Linked DNA regions of Homo sapiens: region 1 is linked to region 2. A link means that fine-mapping ties the variant in region 2 to the expression of a gene that starts in the linked region. Tissue or cell type: tibial nerve. Region 2 holds a variant in brackets; the other region holds the start of a gene. All regions are shown on one strand. Distances are from middle to middle.

Region 1 (8,178 bases), 200 kb before region 2:
TTGTTAAATGCCTCCTTATTTCACTCTCAGAGATAAAACTCAAAACGCAGTTACTCTTCAGGGGGAGTGGGAACGGTGGATTGAAAAGGGATAAAGTCAGGGGAGGGGGAATGATCATAGCCATGTCTTTGTGTTTTTTTAATGGCAGCTTTAAAAAGTTTTTATAATGGAATAATGAATGTTTATAGTAGGAAGATTATAAAATGCCAGAAAAAGTATAAAGAAGAAAATATATATTACTCATAACCCCATCACCCAGAAGAAAACACGGTTAATATTTGGCATTTTTTTCTTCAGACTTTTCTGCAAGAGGGTTTTTATGTAGCTAACAATTTTGAATTCTCTTTTAAAATATTATATATGACAATACTAACTTTTTTATGGCACGAAAAACTGCAAAAACACTTTCGAGTAGCTGCATAATATTCCAACAAAGGCTGTCCTCCAGTTTACTTATTTTATTTGACCATTTAGGCTGCTTCAATTTTTTTCCCATTATTACAAATAATGTACTGTCATTATATCCAATCTCCTGTTTTTCTGGGCAATACGTAGAGCTGGCTGTTTGGAGGTCTTAGGCTGAATTTTACAACTAGTGTTTCCTATGGCACAGAGCAGCCATATAGGAGAATCTCCGGTTAGCTATAGAGTTAGATTATAACATGGTAGCAACTGACCTTTTTTCCCCCCTCTAAAATGCTCCCTGAATTCTACTTCCTCCTGAATACTCTTGACATCGCAATGAGTAGTACCACCTTCTATTGAGATACCCAAGCTTGAAAACTGAGTGTCACTTTGGGCTTCTCCTTGCTACCCCCATCCAATCAGAAATCAAAATCATCCTCAATCTCTCTCAAATCTCTCCTCCCTTTTCTGGCTTCATTGCAACTGCCTTAGTTTCCCTAAATGACCTACTTTTTCCTGCCTCTACTCTTCCTAAGTCACCCCAGTTAATCCATTTCTCTACACTGCTGCCAAATCATCTTTTGAAAACACACTCAAGATCACATCCTTCCTCTTCTTAAAAGCCTTTATTAACTGTCTACCCTCCTTCTGCCCCAGTACCTGAACTTTCAGGATGTTTGGATCCTTAGCCTCCTTCAGGCCCTGTCAAAATCCAATCCTAGATGCTAGGGACTCATCTAGACTCCTCCAAGACCCTCCCCCAATATGTCCAACTCTGCTATGAGTGTCTCATGCTTTTGTCCATGTCATCATACTATTGCCTGTACCTAAAAAGCATCTCCCCTCCTTTCACGGTCTAGCTAATTCCTTGCCTTCAAAACTCAGCTCAAGGCCAGGTATGGTAGCTCACACCTATAATCCCAGCACTCTGGGAAGCCTAGGGCAGAGGATTGATGGTATTTGAGACCAGCCTGGGCAACATAGTGAGACCTCATCTGTAAAACAAACAAACAAACAAATAAAATTAGTTTGGCGTGGTGTGGTGGCACATGCCTGTGGTCCCAGCTACTCAAGAGGCTGAGGTGGGAGGATCACCTGAGCTCAGGAGGTTGAGGCTTCAGTGAACCAAGATGGCACCACTGCACTCCAGCCTGGATGACAGAGTGAGAACCTGTCATCTCCTATGGGAAGTCTTCCCTTACTCCCAACAATTCCATTGGGCATCCCTCATGATTAGATTCAGGTTATTCATGTCTACCAGGAATATCACAGAAGTGATATGTCCTTCCCAGTGCACTATATCAGGGGCCACTTGATGTCTATTTGTCACATTCCTGCTAATACTGATTTTAATCACTCAAGGTGGAGTCTTTCAGGTTTTCTATTGAAAAGTTACTATTTTCCCCTTTGAAATTAATCAGTATCATGTGGGCAGATACTTTGAACCTATATATATTTTTTGTTTCTCAACATACTTTCACCCACTACTTTTAGCATCTGGGTCTCATTTTTCTCACTGGTCAAATGAAATGCATAGACTGAAAGTGATTTGCAAAATTATCACTCTCAAAGATCCCTTTCTTATACTCCCTGTCTTGGATCTTCTGTAATGAAAGAATTTGTCCACCAAACCAATGTTACTCCTTCAGGTACATGTGTCTCATTTTCTCAGTGTACATTCATGAAACATGCCTACTGAACTGTAAGCTCAGAAAACAGGGCCTGTTTGTCTCACCACTGAATGCCGAGACCTATCACAGCACCTGCCACAAAGTAGGTGGTCAAGAAATATTTGTTGAAGGACTAAATCTAACTGCCAATCACAGCTGATGCCCAGCATTTGATGTCTGCAGTGAGGACACAAAGTTGATAAATGCTATTCAAAGGCAGAGACTTGACATTTTAGTTAATCTCAGAGGCTTTGTCACTGGTCACTGTACACTTATCATAAAGATTTTAAAAATAGATTGGACAGATTGTGTGGAAACTTCCCACCCACCCCAACCCATCCCTGCCTTTCTGAGATGCCCTAGTTATGAGATGTTGAAGGGGCATTCCAGCACCCCACGTTTATAATCTGTGATGCCTTTATAATCAGCATATGGCAACTGGCTAGACAGTCTCCTCACCACACAGAAGAGTTTTCAAAATAGCCTACCCCTCCTTTCACATTTATGTGAAATTAGCATTGTCACATTTCCTCCTTCATTGACTACTTTAGATCAGAGAGACACACTGTAGCAGAAGATCATGAAGGAAGTTGTCTTAAAGAAGGAAACTAACATAAATTAAGCATCTCATATACACCCAGTGCTTTCTTTCCATTGTTCTCTCTTTTAATCCTCACCAAAACTGGTGAAGTCGGTATCATCCATTTTATAGATGAGAAAACTGAAGCCGGGTAAGGGGAAATGGCTCGCACTAAGTCCTTTAGCCAGCAGGCAGCAGGGCTGGAGTGGGAATTCCTCCAGTCTCTTCCCCAAAGCCCTTCCAAGTTGCCACTCAGTCAAACTACCGCTCTCATCACATAAAAATGCCCTTCTCTTGGAAATGTGCTTGCCATCACGATCCAAACATTCGAGGGACAGAAATCTCTTGGACCGCAATCACTGCTATTTTTTAAGTGATTGTTATCACGACTCAGTAGCTGTTACCATGGTTTTGGGGAAGTTGTCCGAGGAAGGAGGGCCTTTCTTTGGGCATCTTGCATGCCTGAAGAAGGAACTCAAGATCTCAGCTCTTAATTACTCTGATTGTGCTGCAGTAGCAACTTGAAAGAGACCGTCCCTAGAAAAGTGTTGGGGTGGGGGGTGTGGAGTAACATCCAGCGAGCAGGCAGAAGGGAGGCCCTGGGCGCCAGAGAGACCCAGGGAAAGGCGAAGAGGAGGGAGAGGGGACGAGACCGTGCTACGGGGAGCCTGGAGAGAAAGCCAAAGGAGGAGGAAAGAACAAAAGGCAAGAGGAGAGGAAGTACAAGAAAGTCCAGAAAGGAAAAGAGAAAGTTTCAGAAAGGGGAAGAGAAAGCAAGCAAGGAGGGTAAAAGAAGAAAGAGACCAGAAAGATACCGAACTGAGAGAGCTCGGAGAACTCGAGAAAGCAAAGGAGGTAAAAGGAGAGAAGATGGAGAAGGCGGCGGAGAGGAAGGGGGAAGGAGACAGAGGAACCGAGACTGGGGTGAGGGAGCGGCCGCGCGTGGCCCCCGGAGAGGCGCCCATCACCTGCGTGGCGCCCCCCCGCGCCGGAGTGCGGCCCTGCTCCCAGCGCCAGTGCGCCGCGCGGCTCGCCGGCCTCGTAGGATTGGCTACCGCCTCCCATTCATGTAACCTGCGTGTGCGTGTGCGTGTGTGTGTGTGTCTCTCTCTCGCTCGCCCTCTCTTTCTGTGTGTAAGAGAGCGAGGGTGGGGGACGGAGGCAGGCAGGCGAGCAGGCAGGGAGGGGAAGAAGAGAAGGGAAGCTATTAAACACACACACACACACACACACTCACACACGCGCGCGCACACACCCGCCCCAACCCCCCAGAAGCCTCGGGATTGCAGCTGTTTCATGTGGGGCAGCAGTGCTGGCAGGGACGCCGGCCGGGAGCGGCCGGGAGCGGGAGCCGGTCGTGCGCGCGCGGCTGGAGGCTCGCTGGGGCTCCGCTCCCCGCGGGAGCTATTGTTGGTCTCGCTGGAGCTGAGCGCAGAGCCCGGACCTGCTCCTTCCTGGGCGCCCCGCTACGGCTCGCGGAGCAGAGGAGCCGCGCCGCCGAGAGAGAGAGGAGCCACCGGCGCGGCGCCTTGCCTCCCTGCCGCCGTCCTCGCCGCTTCCCCGGCGGTAGCAGCCTGCAGCCACGGTAAGGCGGCGTGATCCGCTCTACGGAAAAGCGCCTTGGGGACCGCGGCGACGCCTCGCCAGCTCCATCGCCCTCTGCACTGCTGGCCCGGGCAGGGTTCGGGTAGCTCACGCGGCTGCCGAGGGCTCCGGGAGATGTTTGCTTGCTCCCCTGGCCCAGGAGGAGGGAGGCTAGGGCGCGGGTGGCCGAAGAGGCAAGCTGTTCTGGAGCCTGGAGCCGCCGCAGCCCCCGGAGCCCGCCGCGGACTGGAGCCTGGGAGCAAGGGTTGGGGGAGGGCAGGGAGGTGGGAAGCGGGTGGGAGGGAGGCGGCGCGCCCCAGGTTCGTCTGCCTCTCCCGGATCCCGTTCCCCGCCCCGGCCCGGTCGCCTGCAGCCCCTCTGCAGACTAGCTCGCCCCAGGCCCCCGTCGGGCGCTGGAGGAGCCCGCGAGGCGGCGCCGGGCTTCAGCGGCTGCAGCCTGCCCTGCGGGGCAAGTGCCGGCTGCAGCAGCCCCGCACGGGCGGTGGTTGGAGCTCAGATCCTGGAGATGCGACCCCAGCTCCTCGCCCTCTGCAACCCGCGGGGCGCCCGCCTCTCCTCACCGGGCGCCCGGCCGCGGTATTGATGTTCGTCTAGGAGCCAACTGAGGCTGCAGCCGCCAGATGGACGCTTGGAGGGCTCCCGGGTGTGAGTGTGACTGTATGACTACTCTCACCCCCAGCTTCGGGAAATGTGCTCTGGGTTGAAATGTGATCACCGAGCTCCTCAGTCATTTTAATTGCCATTTTTAAATGCGGTCGTTACATTGGAGGAGCAGACTGGAAGGTAGTGGGGCGGCGTGTGTGTGTGTGTGTGTGTGTGTGTGTGGACACACACACGCAACCGAGGAATACACAACCAACTACTTGGGTGAAGGGCGGGGGGTTCACCTAGTGAGTCCTTCTTGGCGGGGGGGTCGGGCGAGTTAGCTGCCCGCTGCCCGCCCCTTCTCTGCCTGCCCCCGCCTAGGCGAGGTTGGAAAGTACTGGAAATTCAGCTGCGTGGTCCTTAACTTTGGAAATTGGCTCCGCTTTCAGGGCAAAATGTTAAGGCGATTTATGCACCCGCGTCCATGTGGATGAGTGTATTACTGCTCAGTTGGGTGCAGAGCCCTCAACAGTACCGCGCCAAGCCCCCACCCGATCTCTAACTCCCTCCCACCCCCTAACCGTGGAGAGAGGGTTTATAGAAATGCAGTTATCTGTAAACCATCGACGCAGTGAAAGGGGCGCAGGGAGGCAGCCAGAGTTTTGCCTGAACCTGCATACTGGCTTGGTGTTTGTAGCACACGAGATCACCCCGCTGCTTTGTAGAAGGCGGTGGTGGGGCAAGCTCGGGATTCCAATCGCCGGGGTGGGGGGTGGGGGGAAGAGGGTGCCCATGTACTGAGCTCTGAGGCCGAGTAAGGAGAGAGATCTGCTGAGCGGCATCGCGGGCAATTACATAAGCTGCCTCGGTGATTACCCGGAACTGTGATGCGAGCTCCCGGTTCTCGAAAGACAAGCCTGAAAGTTTGCCTGCTTGGGGAGTGTAAGTACCGGGGCGCCCCCACCCCGGCCTGGGTAGCTAGGATACGCCTCGCACCACGGCGCCCACTTGTGCGATGGGCGTCGGGTGCTGATGCTGCTGTCCCCAAAGAACCGGTTACCGAGGCAGGGACTAAGTGGGGGCATCCGGAATTGATCGCAGAGGAGGAGTCAGTCAGAACTGAGGTTTCATTGGGTCTTCAGAGCTCCAAGTCTTCCCTCGGAGGTGTTGGAAGGCCTTCCAGGGAACGCCGTTTTCAGAAACTGACTTGGTGTCCTGGGGAGCCCCAAAGCCCCTCTTTTCCGCCCTTCCTGGGCGCCCCTCCTTGTCTTTCAAGCCCTGTGCCCTTCACGTGTTTAGAAACCTGCCCGCGGTGCCTGGTCCCCCTTGGAGATGCCCAGGCAGCCCAGCCATCCAGGCCCACGCTGGCGAGGGGTTAGAGGGAGTAGAACGCTGGCTCTGCCGGGCTGCCACCCTTACCTACACCTATTCCTGGTTTCCTGCGCTAGCCCGGCGCTGATGGGGACGGGATGGGGCTGGGGTCGGGTATGGCTTCCGTTCCTTCGCCTCTCGCCTCTGCAGACAGCAGTTTGCTTCTGTTGCGTTTATTCTCCCCGTTTCGCCGCTTCCCTCCAGCGCCGCAGCCTGTGTATCACGTTGATGGGCTTTGATAGAGAAACCACAGTAAGAGTATGCTTTTAAATCTTGATTTTCGTCTGTAGGGGGATAAGCCACCCCAGCCCTGACACAGCCGTGGGGAACGCTGAAGTCTGGGACACATTGGCCCTGAACTCCCTTCCCCCCAGCCCGCAGTCAGGAGATGGTGATGTGCATGGGTGGGGAGTGTTTTGTTTTTGCCACATTCCAGCGTCCTGAAACCTCTCGTCCCCTCCCACTGAAATCCCCGATCTGTCTGAATCTGTTCCTTGCTGTAAAATAAATCCTCCCTCCCGCAGACCTGTGGGGCCCTTCGGATTTCCTGCCGCTGCCATGATCCTTAACAATGCGATTGAAAAGCCAGTGCTCGGCTGGAAAAAAATCCCCAGGTGCCAGCCGGCCGCGCCTTGACCTTGCTGAAGGAGCCTTTAACCCGGCTGCCAGAGGGGCTCTGGTCCAGCCGTGGGAATCCAGGAAGAAGGAGGGCGCCCCGGAGGCGGCTGGGTTAGCTCCCCGGGCAGGGCGGGAATCAGGTCGCGGCGGGGACCGCAGAGGGGGAGGGGACGGGACTCCGCGGCAACCTGTTTCCCGGCGAGCCGGGCCCGCGCATCCCAGCTCCCTCGCCCCAGCCCCTCGTGGCCCGCCTCCCCCGCCGGCCTCCAGTTGTCTTCGTGGTACAGGAGTCGGCCGCGACTCCCTCGCGCTCTCCGCCGGAGTCCGCGGGACGCCGCCAACTTTGGGCTCCTCGGTGGCCGGAGCAGCGGTGCGAACCAGCGGGGCGGCCGGGTGGGCGGGGCCTGGGCGGGAAACTGGAGCCGAGAAGACCGCGTTCCAGGCCAAGTTCCAGCCGCAAGCGCCGCGCGGCACAGTGCAGGGTCCCGGCCGCGCCTTTCTCCCGTCCCCGGCCCGGCCGCGTTCCTGCGGACTCACAGCGCGCTCCGGGCGCTCTGCAGTTGGGCTTTCAGCGGGGGAGCCCTTCTCGTCAAAGTTACGAGGGGTGTTTTCACTGGTGGTGACAGTGGGAACTAGTTTTCTGCGCGCCTGTGTGTGTGTGTGTGCATGTGTTGGGGAGCAGAGAGATTTGCAGCGAAGTCACACATAGCACAAAAAACAGGTTTCCCCTTTCCAGGTGTTATAAGGGAATGCTGAGGAGGAATCCGTTTTCTCCGGTGAGGGTGTTGACGGGAAGCCCTTCCACTTAGTGGAACTGGACCTGTTGGAGCTGATTGCCTGGAGTGAACGGGTGTCTCCTTTAGCGGCACCTGTGTGCCGTAGGTCCTTGGAAATGTTTGGGGAACTGAAAGTCCTCAAGATATTCAGCCAGGACTTAGGGCATAGATGTTTGTGTGCTTTTAGGGGGCTAATTCGGGGAAGCTTTTATTTCCAGCATGTGTCTTGAACTGAGGGGAGGGCAGGGTGCGGAAGGCTTGTGGAATTGCCATCTTCTGTGGTGGGGGAAGGGATCAGGGACGGAGAGCTTTGGTTTTCTAGAAAGAGTTCTTGGGTTCTTCCTCTGCTCTCATCTTGTTTTCATCAAGGCCTCTGTTTGGGGGTGGAGGTAGAGTGGTGCGGTAAGCGGATCAGCCACCCTAATAGACCGGCCTTGACCAGTGCGGATGCCAACGGGCAGAACTAGTGCTTGGTCTGAACAAGAACCATCAAAGGATAGTTCTATAGTGAGTGGAGTGACCTGGAATATGAGGTAGAAGGCTAGGTGTTAGAGTAATGGGTTCCCAC
Region 2 (8,178 bases):
TTACCACCATAGTTTTCTGTGACGAGTACCTTGCGTTTGGAAAGGCTTTGATAATCAGCAGTATAATGTCACATATGTCTGCTCATTTGATTGCTGCAACAATCGGTTGTTCTTACCTTTTGAAGGAGGAAACAGGCCTGGAGAGTTCTGAAGTGACTTACCCAAAGTCACGTGGTCCCTTAGCTCTGCGCGTGGTCTTTCCTATCTTTTATACCTGAGTGCCCAAGCCTCAGTTTTCTCATTCCTGGGATGGGGTAATGATGTTTAGCCCACAGGTCTAGGATGAGAACAAAACATGTAGAACACTCCGCAGAGTGCCCCAGGAATAGTAGGTGCTGAATGAATGTCAATGATTAGTGATTATTAGTAGCAAACGACTGTTAGTTTCTTTTGTTCTTCTTGAGCACAGGGACACATGTCTTGTATTTCTCTGTGATGCACCATCCCTATCAATGCACCATCATCCCAGAGTTAATGAATGATGGTGCACTGGACAGAGCATGGGCCCTTGAGTTCATGCATCCAGGTCTCTGCCATCTCCTAAGTTGGTCCCACACTCTGCAATTAACCTTCCTGAACCTCAGTTCATCTCATCTATAAAATGAGGGTAACACCTGCCTCACAAGATACTTGGGAAGATTAAATGAGCCAAGGTATTTTGGAAGTGTCTGACTCAGAATATACAGCAGCAAATATGACTCCCTTTTCCTTCTGGTTGTATTTTTCGTGGATGAGAGACATATTTTTGATAAAAAGCATATTGCTTCCTGTCGTGTTTCTTCAGTAGGACTTTTCAAGACTGGTTTGATGAGAAAGTGTTAACTGAGCATATCTGATGAGCACAAGGCTCTGTGGAGGTGCAGAGGAAACATAAAATGTGGCCCCACCTAGAGGGCCCTGTGATGTTTCACCTGTGACTTGATGGCATCATGTCCTTCTGCAACCAGAGCTGTCTCTGCAGACAGAGCTCAACTGAGAGCACCTAATTCTTTTTGCGTGTTTGTTTGTTTGTTTGTTTGAGACAGAGTCTTGCTCTGTTACTGAGGCTGGAGTGGAATGGCACAATTTTGGCTCACTGCAACCCCTGCCTTCCAGGTTTAAGCGATTCTCATGCCTCAGCCTCCTGAATACCTGGGATTACAGGCATGTGCCACCACACCTAACTAATTTTTGTATTTTTAGGAGAAACGGGGTTTCACCACGATCGCCAAGCTGGTCTTGAACTCCTGACCTATGGTGATCCACCCACCTCAGCGTCACAAAGTGTTAGATTACAGGTGTGAGCCACTGTGCCTGGCCTGCACCTAATTCTTGAGTCCTGTATTAGTCTGGGTTCTTCAGAAAAACAGAACCAACAGGAGAGAGAGAGAGAGAGAGAAAGAGATTTATTATGAAGGTTTGGCAATTATGAGGGCTTGGAAGACCCATGATCTGCCACCTTCCAGGAGGCCCAGGAAAGCCAGTGGTGTAGTTCTGGCCCAAACCCTAAGGCCTGAGAACCAGGGGAGCCAGTGTAATATGTCCCAGTTTGAGTCAAAAGGCTCGAGAACCAGGAGTTCTCATGTCCAAAGGCAGGAGGAGATGGATCTCCCAGCACAAGCACAGAGCAAATTCACCCTCCCTCTGCCTTTTTGTTCTATTCAGGTCCTCAAGGGATCGGAGTGCTGCCCACACACATTGTTGAGGGGGGTCTCCAATCTCTCCCAGAAACACCCTCACAGACACAACCAGAAATAATGTTTAACCAGATATCTGGGCATTCCTCAGCCCTGTCAACTTGACACATGAAATTAACCCTCACAGGTCCCATCCCCCTGAGTCCCCAAGTCCAGGACAGCTGGACAAGTCAAGGAAGGGCTTCCTTACAGGTAAATAGAGAAATACAATTCAGACAGCACTCCCAAACCGTGAGTGCATATTAATCTGCGGGGACAAATATCATAACATAATTAGTACAGCAGTGCTCCCAGCTTAATTGAAAATGCTGCATATGAGGGGCAGTTAATGAGAAATGCAAGATGTGATGATTCAGAACTGCTGAGATTTAGCAGCTCGGTGGCTGTAGCGAGGAAGTGTTGGGCTTTTTTCCCTTTGCTATTCTCTTTGTACATCTGGACAGGAAGGGGGCTGAAAGGAGTTACTAACAGTGTGTATGGTTAGAGAACTTTGATTATCTGGAAGTCCCTCAGCTATTTGGAATGCAGCAGAGAGCTAGCCAAGCAGGAAACGAAAAAGAGCCTCTGAGCCGACAAAACACATTTCTATTTGGCCGTGCACTGCAGTCTTCAGATTTTTGTGATACGAAATCCTCTCAACCCACACTCACAACTGATTTGTTTGTGCTTACTTTATTTTTTTATTTTTTTGAGACGGAGTCTCGCTCTGTTGCCCAGGCTGGAGTGCAGTGGTACGAACTTGGCTCACTGCAACCTCCACCTCCCAGGTTCAAGTGATTCTCCTGCCTCAGCCTCCCAAGTAGCTGGGATTATAGGTGCCTGCCACCACACCCAGCTAATGTTTGTATTTTTAGTATAGACAGGGTTTTACCATGTTGGCCAGGCTGGTGTCAAACTCCTGAACTCAGGTGATCCGCCTGCCTCGGCCTCCCAATGTGCTGGGATTATAGGCATGAGCCACCATGCCAGGCCCTATGTTTACTTTATACCAGAGTTTAATAAGCCAGGTGATCTGATTTCCCAGGCATTAGCAGAACTGTAGCAGGGCATCAGGGCAGTGGTGGGTGGGGCCTCCGGAGGAGCTTGTCTCTCCACCCTGTCTTAGTCCAGTCATCCAGTTAATACAGGTCTTTAAGGCGCAATGTATGTTTGGGGCATAGGGGAGATAAAGACATAAAAAAATCTCTTCTCTTTAAGGAGCTTACAGTTTTGGGACAGACGGGTGTTGGCTCAGTCAATGTTCTTAGTTTCAGACAACAGAATCTATTCTGTCTAGTTTAAACAGAAAAGGATTTAATACAGGATATTAGATGGCCTGCAAACCTTTCAGGAATGCCAGGGACTCAAGCTTGGCTGCCAGAGAACCAGAGAAGTACCTGGCATGGCATAGGGCTCCTTTAACGGAATCCCCTTTGTCTCACTCCTTGGGACTCAACATTCCGGGAACCAGACAGCAGAGCCTACGCCACAGCTGTCCAGATAAACAAACACCTCCACCACTGTGTGGGTGGGAAGATCCAGTGCACCCGAGCATAGTCACCACCTCCTGTAACAACATCCGCCCTCTACAATCCTGTGGGTGCATTTGCTCCATAGAACTTGGGTCTCGCCGCAAGGGAGTCAGTATATTGTTT[C/T]CAGCTGTCTAGGCTCGTGGAAAAGAAAGCACACTGGAAGGAGGTTGAAGTGGGTGTTGAGAAAGCCTGTATTTGGTATCTGCTGCAGATGTGGCCAGATAATGAGAGTCCAGTGAGCCAAGTCCTGCTGTACAGTTGTGTTCTGAGGGTTCGCTCACCATCCGACACAAGCACAACAAAGCGAGCACAAAGTGATACTGGAGTGCTGACAGTCAGGGAGAAGATCACAGCGCGAGAAAGAGAGAGCGCAGAAACTTCAAAAGCATGAAATGATGCTGGGGCCATTTCATTTAGGAGCAAATAACCCTGCAGAAGGTAGTCACAAAGGGCATCAGCGTAATAGAGCAGAGTAAAAAGAATAGCTGTGCGTGATCCTTAGCCATCAAGGAAAGTTTAGATTGCATTCAGGAGACTTCGACTAGAAGGCAGGAATGTCTCAAACAGGCATCCGAAGGATTTCCACAAATAACGAGGTGCATTTTCCCTTTACAATTTGTGCTACAGGACTGAGACGTGGAAATCTGGGGACTCATGTACTCTGTGTTATTATTGATTATATACCTTTTTTCCATACGGTATCAGGTAATGGAGGTTTCATGGCAGCATCAGAGGCCTCTCACTCCCCAAATGAGTACCATATAGGCCAGGGACCGTGAACCCTGAGTATCCTTCCTACAGGAATCAAGTCTCCCGAAAACAGAAATGCAGACACTTTTGGAAGAGGAGCGCATTGTTTACAGGGCAGCAGCGGCTTTCTCCTATGCATTGTATGAATGCACAGAAGGAAGAGCTTGAACCTCAGGCATCAGGGCACGAAAGAATCCATCTAAACAAGCAAAACAAGTTCAGCTAAAAAAAAAAGTCCTCATTCTTACCAGAGTTCAGATAAATCTAGGAAAGCTCAAAGAAAGGAGGGCAAGGGGGCCTGGAGAAGGGAGTGTTCATTATGAGGAAAAGAGTCGTTTCCATAGAGCCACAGACCAGTGATCAGTTTTTGAACCTGAAGAGCTCAAAATACATTTATGCACTTGTATAACTATTTATAGTCATACGTTGATGTATTTATAGCTATGTGGAGGCTGACACTAAGGCCTGTTTTCTTGTCCCCTGGTCCAGCTTTTAGTTCCCATTTCTCTGCCTTCCCAAACCTTCCTGTCTTGAGTTCCATTTGATCAATCATTAACAACAGTCTTGCCAACAATGCTAACGATTATCATTAGTGTTATTACAGAGGTCCTAGGGTCCCTATCTTGAGCACCTCCCCTGTGTCAGGCCGCATGACTAGGGAAGAGAGCAGCAGGAGCTTCATCCGTCCCAGGTCTCAACCCTGCATCTCTCACTTTGTACTCTACAGGGGGGCCACCCTGTCTCTCAGAATTTGACTGGAATGCTTGTCAGGGAGACTTCATTTTTTTTTGGAGACGGAGTCTCACCTTGTCACCCAGGCTGGAGTGCAGTGGCGCGATATCTTGGCTCACTGCAACCTCTGCCTCCCAGGTTCAAGCGATTCTCCTGCCTCAGCCTCCCGAGTAGCTGGGATTACAGGCACACACCACCACGCCTGGCTAATTTTTTGTATTTTTAGTAGAGACGGGGTTTCACCGTGTTAGCCAGGATGGTCTCTATCTCCTGACCTCATGATCCACCCGCCTCAGCCTCCCAAAGTGCTGGGATTGCAGGCATGAGTCACCGCGCCTGGCCAGTCAGGGAGACTTCTGATGGGATTTTTAGTCTTCCCTCTTGGTATTTTAACAAGGCCCTGTGGCTTCACTGAGCCCAATGCCAGATATTTGGTTTCTGGAAAGTTCAATGCTTCAGTAGATATTTTCTTCTTACCTTGCCAGACCCCGCAAGCCAGGTGCCCCGCATCCAGGGAAAAGGCTCACTGCGGGCCCCACTCCAAGGACACAGGCAACGTATTCATGGGTACACTGTTTCTTTTCCTAAGGGAAGCACTAGCGCTGGGAAATAAACCCACCTCCATTCCCACGTAGCAATTATGTGCACAATTACAGTTCCAGCAGGTGTCACTTAAAAGGATGAGACCCATTAAGTGTTTAAATGAGAAAGCAGAAAGGAGCCTCTGAGAACTCCCAGGAAAGCCACTCTGCAGAGGTGGAAGAAGGGAGCACATGGGACCTTCCCTGAGCATTTCCTTGCCCTCACCCTCCACCCACCATGCTTTCCCATAAGTGATCTCATCCCAGCCTGAGGGCAGCCCTTGGTACAGAGGTTAACAGGCCTTTGTGAGCTAATGGAGAAATTGAGCTCAGCCCCATGCAGTGAATTGCCCGAGGCCTCTTAGCCAGTAAGAACTGACATAAGATGCACATGCCTATACAGGGAATGCATGCCAATATCATTCATCATTTCAGGTCCATAGAGGGCCAAACCTTCCCTTCGCTTTTTCTATAGCTTTCAGGGTGCCCAGCACATATCAAATACCCAATAAGTACTTGACAGGCTTCTTTATAGCAATTTTCTCCCCATTGTTCAAATGATGAATGAAGCATTCAGAGGAAAAGAAGGTCAAAGGGAAGAAAGTGCCAGGCATATGCAAGCTTATTTCAATTAACATTTACAGTACAAAGTGGGTTTTATTGCTTTTACAGATAGGGAAACAAGTCTCAGAGAAATGAAGGGACTTGCCCAAGTCTACTTGGCTGTTGAGTAGCAAACGCCATATTTGAACCCAGGTCTGCCTGAGTCCAAACTCTGTGCTCTTTGCACTACATTGAACAACCTCCGTTGGGATCCATCACACTGCAGAGGTAACTGCATGCTTCCCCTCACACAGCCATGTGGGAGGTGAGTTCAGGGATGTCACCCTTCAGTACAACCTATTGAAAGGGCCTCTTCCTTTTCGCTCATTGGAAGGATCCAGACCATGGCTAAGCCAGAAGAGCCTTCTATTTGCTGGAATCATGTAAACTCTATTTCTGAGCCATCTTAACCAAGGTTTGCCCACTGAAAGTTCACAAAGGGCCACCTGGAGGTGGGGTAGGAATACATACCAGGGCTCTACTGGCCCACAGGCCTGCTTCTACCCCAACTGGCGATCTCCTCTCCCCATTCACAGCCCCCCGCCTTGCCCCACCAATATGAAGTACTAACACCTGGGTCCGTGTCTCCCTGTCTTGCCTAAGTGCCTCACATTCTGCTCCATCTGGAAACCAGGGGTCAGCCTCAGGCACAGCTCTCTCACCCTTTCTGTGCCATCACTTACCAGGTTTTATTAAGTTCATCTACCATCCTCACTCAAGTCCCCTCCTCCTTCCCGTCCCCCTGCCTCTTCCACAATCTAGACCTTTGCAGCAGCCTCCTCCCTGGTCTTCATAGCTCCCTTTCTGCCCCCATCTTCTGTATAATTATAGATGAGCTTTGTCAAACATGTACTTTAACCATCCAACCAGCCACCCAACCTTCCATCTGTCCAATACATGTTTACTGAATATATGCATATTTGCTATGTGTCAGAGTTCATGCTAGACTTGGGATGCAGAGCTAGATAAGAAATAGACCAGTCTGTAGTGGTGGAGAGAGATATGTTAGTAAATAACATTGTTTGGGAAGGGAAACCCAAGGCATGGCGTCTGACTCAGTCTGGCAGCCTCAGCGGAGGCTTCTAGAGGGGCTGGCATGGGGTCAGGGCAACTGTGCATATACAAAGGCTTGACCCTGCATTGCCCATGTGGGGAGCTAAAAATGCCCAACAAGCCTAGAGGGAAGGGTGGTTCCTGGCAAGGCAGAGACCAAACCATGAAGTGCTTTGTGCTGTGAATCTGGAATTTCACCTGTTGGCAATGGTACACCCCGGACAGTTTTAACCAAGGGAGTGCCATGGGCAGGGAGCTCTAAACCACTCCACTCTCCTGACCTCACTTGGGTGTCCTGGTGAGCTTTTGCCCAGGTTCCAACCTCCAACCAGATCACTGATTCACCTCCTTTTCTGGCTGACTGAGGATCTATCCAAACAGCAATTTTATTCTCCCAGACACTGCTCACCCACAAGAGTTCGGAATCACCCTTGGAGAAATTCCTTTATATTCTCCCTGTGTTCTGGACACAATGTGTCTTGAATATTAGCACAATTCACTGGACTGGTGCCTGTTGAGTGTGTGGATGGCGAATTGTTTTGGGATGCACTCAGCAGCTCCTGCCTCACCACATCTGCCCATCATCCTGGAGTGCCTGGTAGGAGCAGATAATAAATGGGCCAGCTGCCACCTCCTGCTTTTCTAATCATCTGTCAAAGAAATGGAAAACTCACTCGCAGTCACTGCTGAATGCAGATGGGGTCAGTGCATGTTGGGTTCAGAAGTAAGGAAAAGGAGGGGCACAGGCTGGGGCTGCCCGTGCAGGGTTTCTGCGCCTGAAGACTCTGCCCCAGCATGCTCTCTTGGCCTTAACCTGCCCTTTCTTCATGCGTCCTGCTAGCCTCTGTACTATCTGAAACAGTCCTCACCAGCTTCACTTCAGGGCCCCTTACACATTACTGACTCCACAGAAAGCATGACCCAGAACCCTGAAGAACTGGGTTGGAACCCTTGGCTCTATGACCTTGGACCAGTAACTTCCCCTCTTGGAGTAGTGGGGTTTTATTTATTTTTTTGTTTGTTTTGTTTTGTTTTGTTTGCTTTTTCTTTTTTCTTTTCCAGACAGTCTCACCCTGTCCCTCAGACTGGAGTGCAGTGGTATGATCTTGTCTCACTGCAATCTCCACCTCCTGGGTTCAAGCAATTCTCCTGCCTCAGCTTCCCAAGTAGCTGGAATTAAAAGCATGTGCTACCACGCCTGGCTAATTTTTCTATTTTTAGTAGAGACGGGGTTTCACCATGTTGGCCAGGCTGGTCTTGAACTCCTGACCT

Which allele goes with the higher level. Alleles are on the strand shown, and positions count from the first base shown. SD is a standard deviation of normalised expression in the study named.
For the expression in tibial nerve of the gene that starts at base 3,719 in region 1, allele C in region 2 goes with a higher level than allele T (small effect, 0.28 SD a copy in GTEx).

Evidence for each region. PIP is the estimated chance that this variant, and not a neighbour inherited with it, causes the effect.
Region 1: TENM4 starts here. The variant in region 2 is fine-mapped to the expression of TENM4 in tibial nerve (GTEx, PIP above 0.99).

Annotation. Positions count from the first base shown.
Region 1 is chr11:79,436,571-79,444,748 of GRCh38, reverse strand. TENM4 (teneurin transmembrane protein 4) reads left to right here and starts at 3,719. Exons shown (of 34, transcript NM_001098816.3): 1 at 3,719-4,240. RefSeq lists silencers at 3,591-3,760, 4,021-4,130.
Region 2 is chr11:79,231,865-79,240,042 of GRCh38, reverse strand. All of the region lies in intron 2 of TENM4 (teneurin transmembrane protein 4), which reads left to right. Among named protein-coding and RNA genes, the nearest start is that of TENM4-AS1, 140 kb to the right of the region's middle. The variant C/T (reference allele first, on the strand shown) is at 3,311.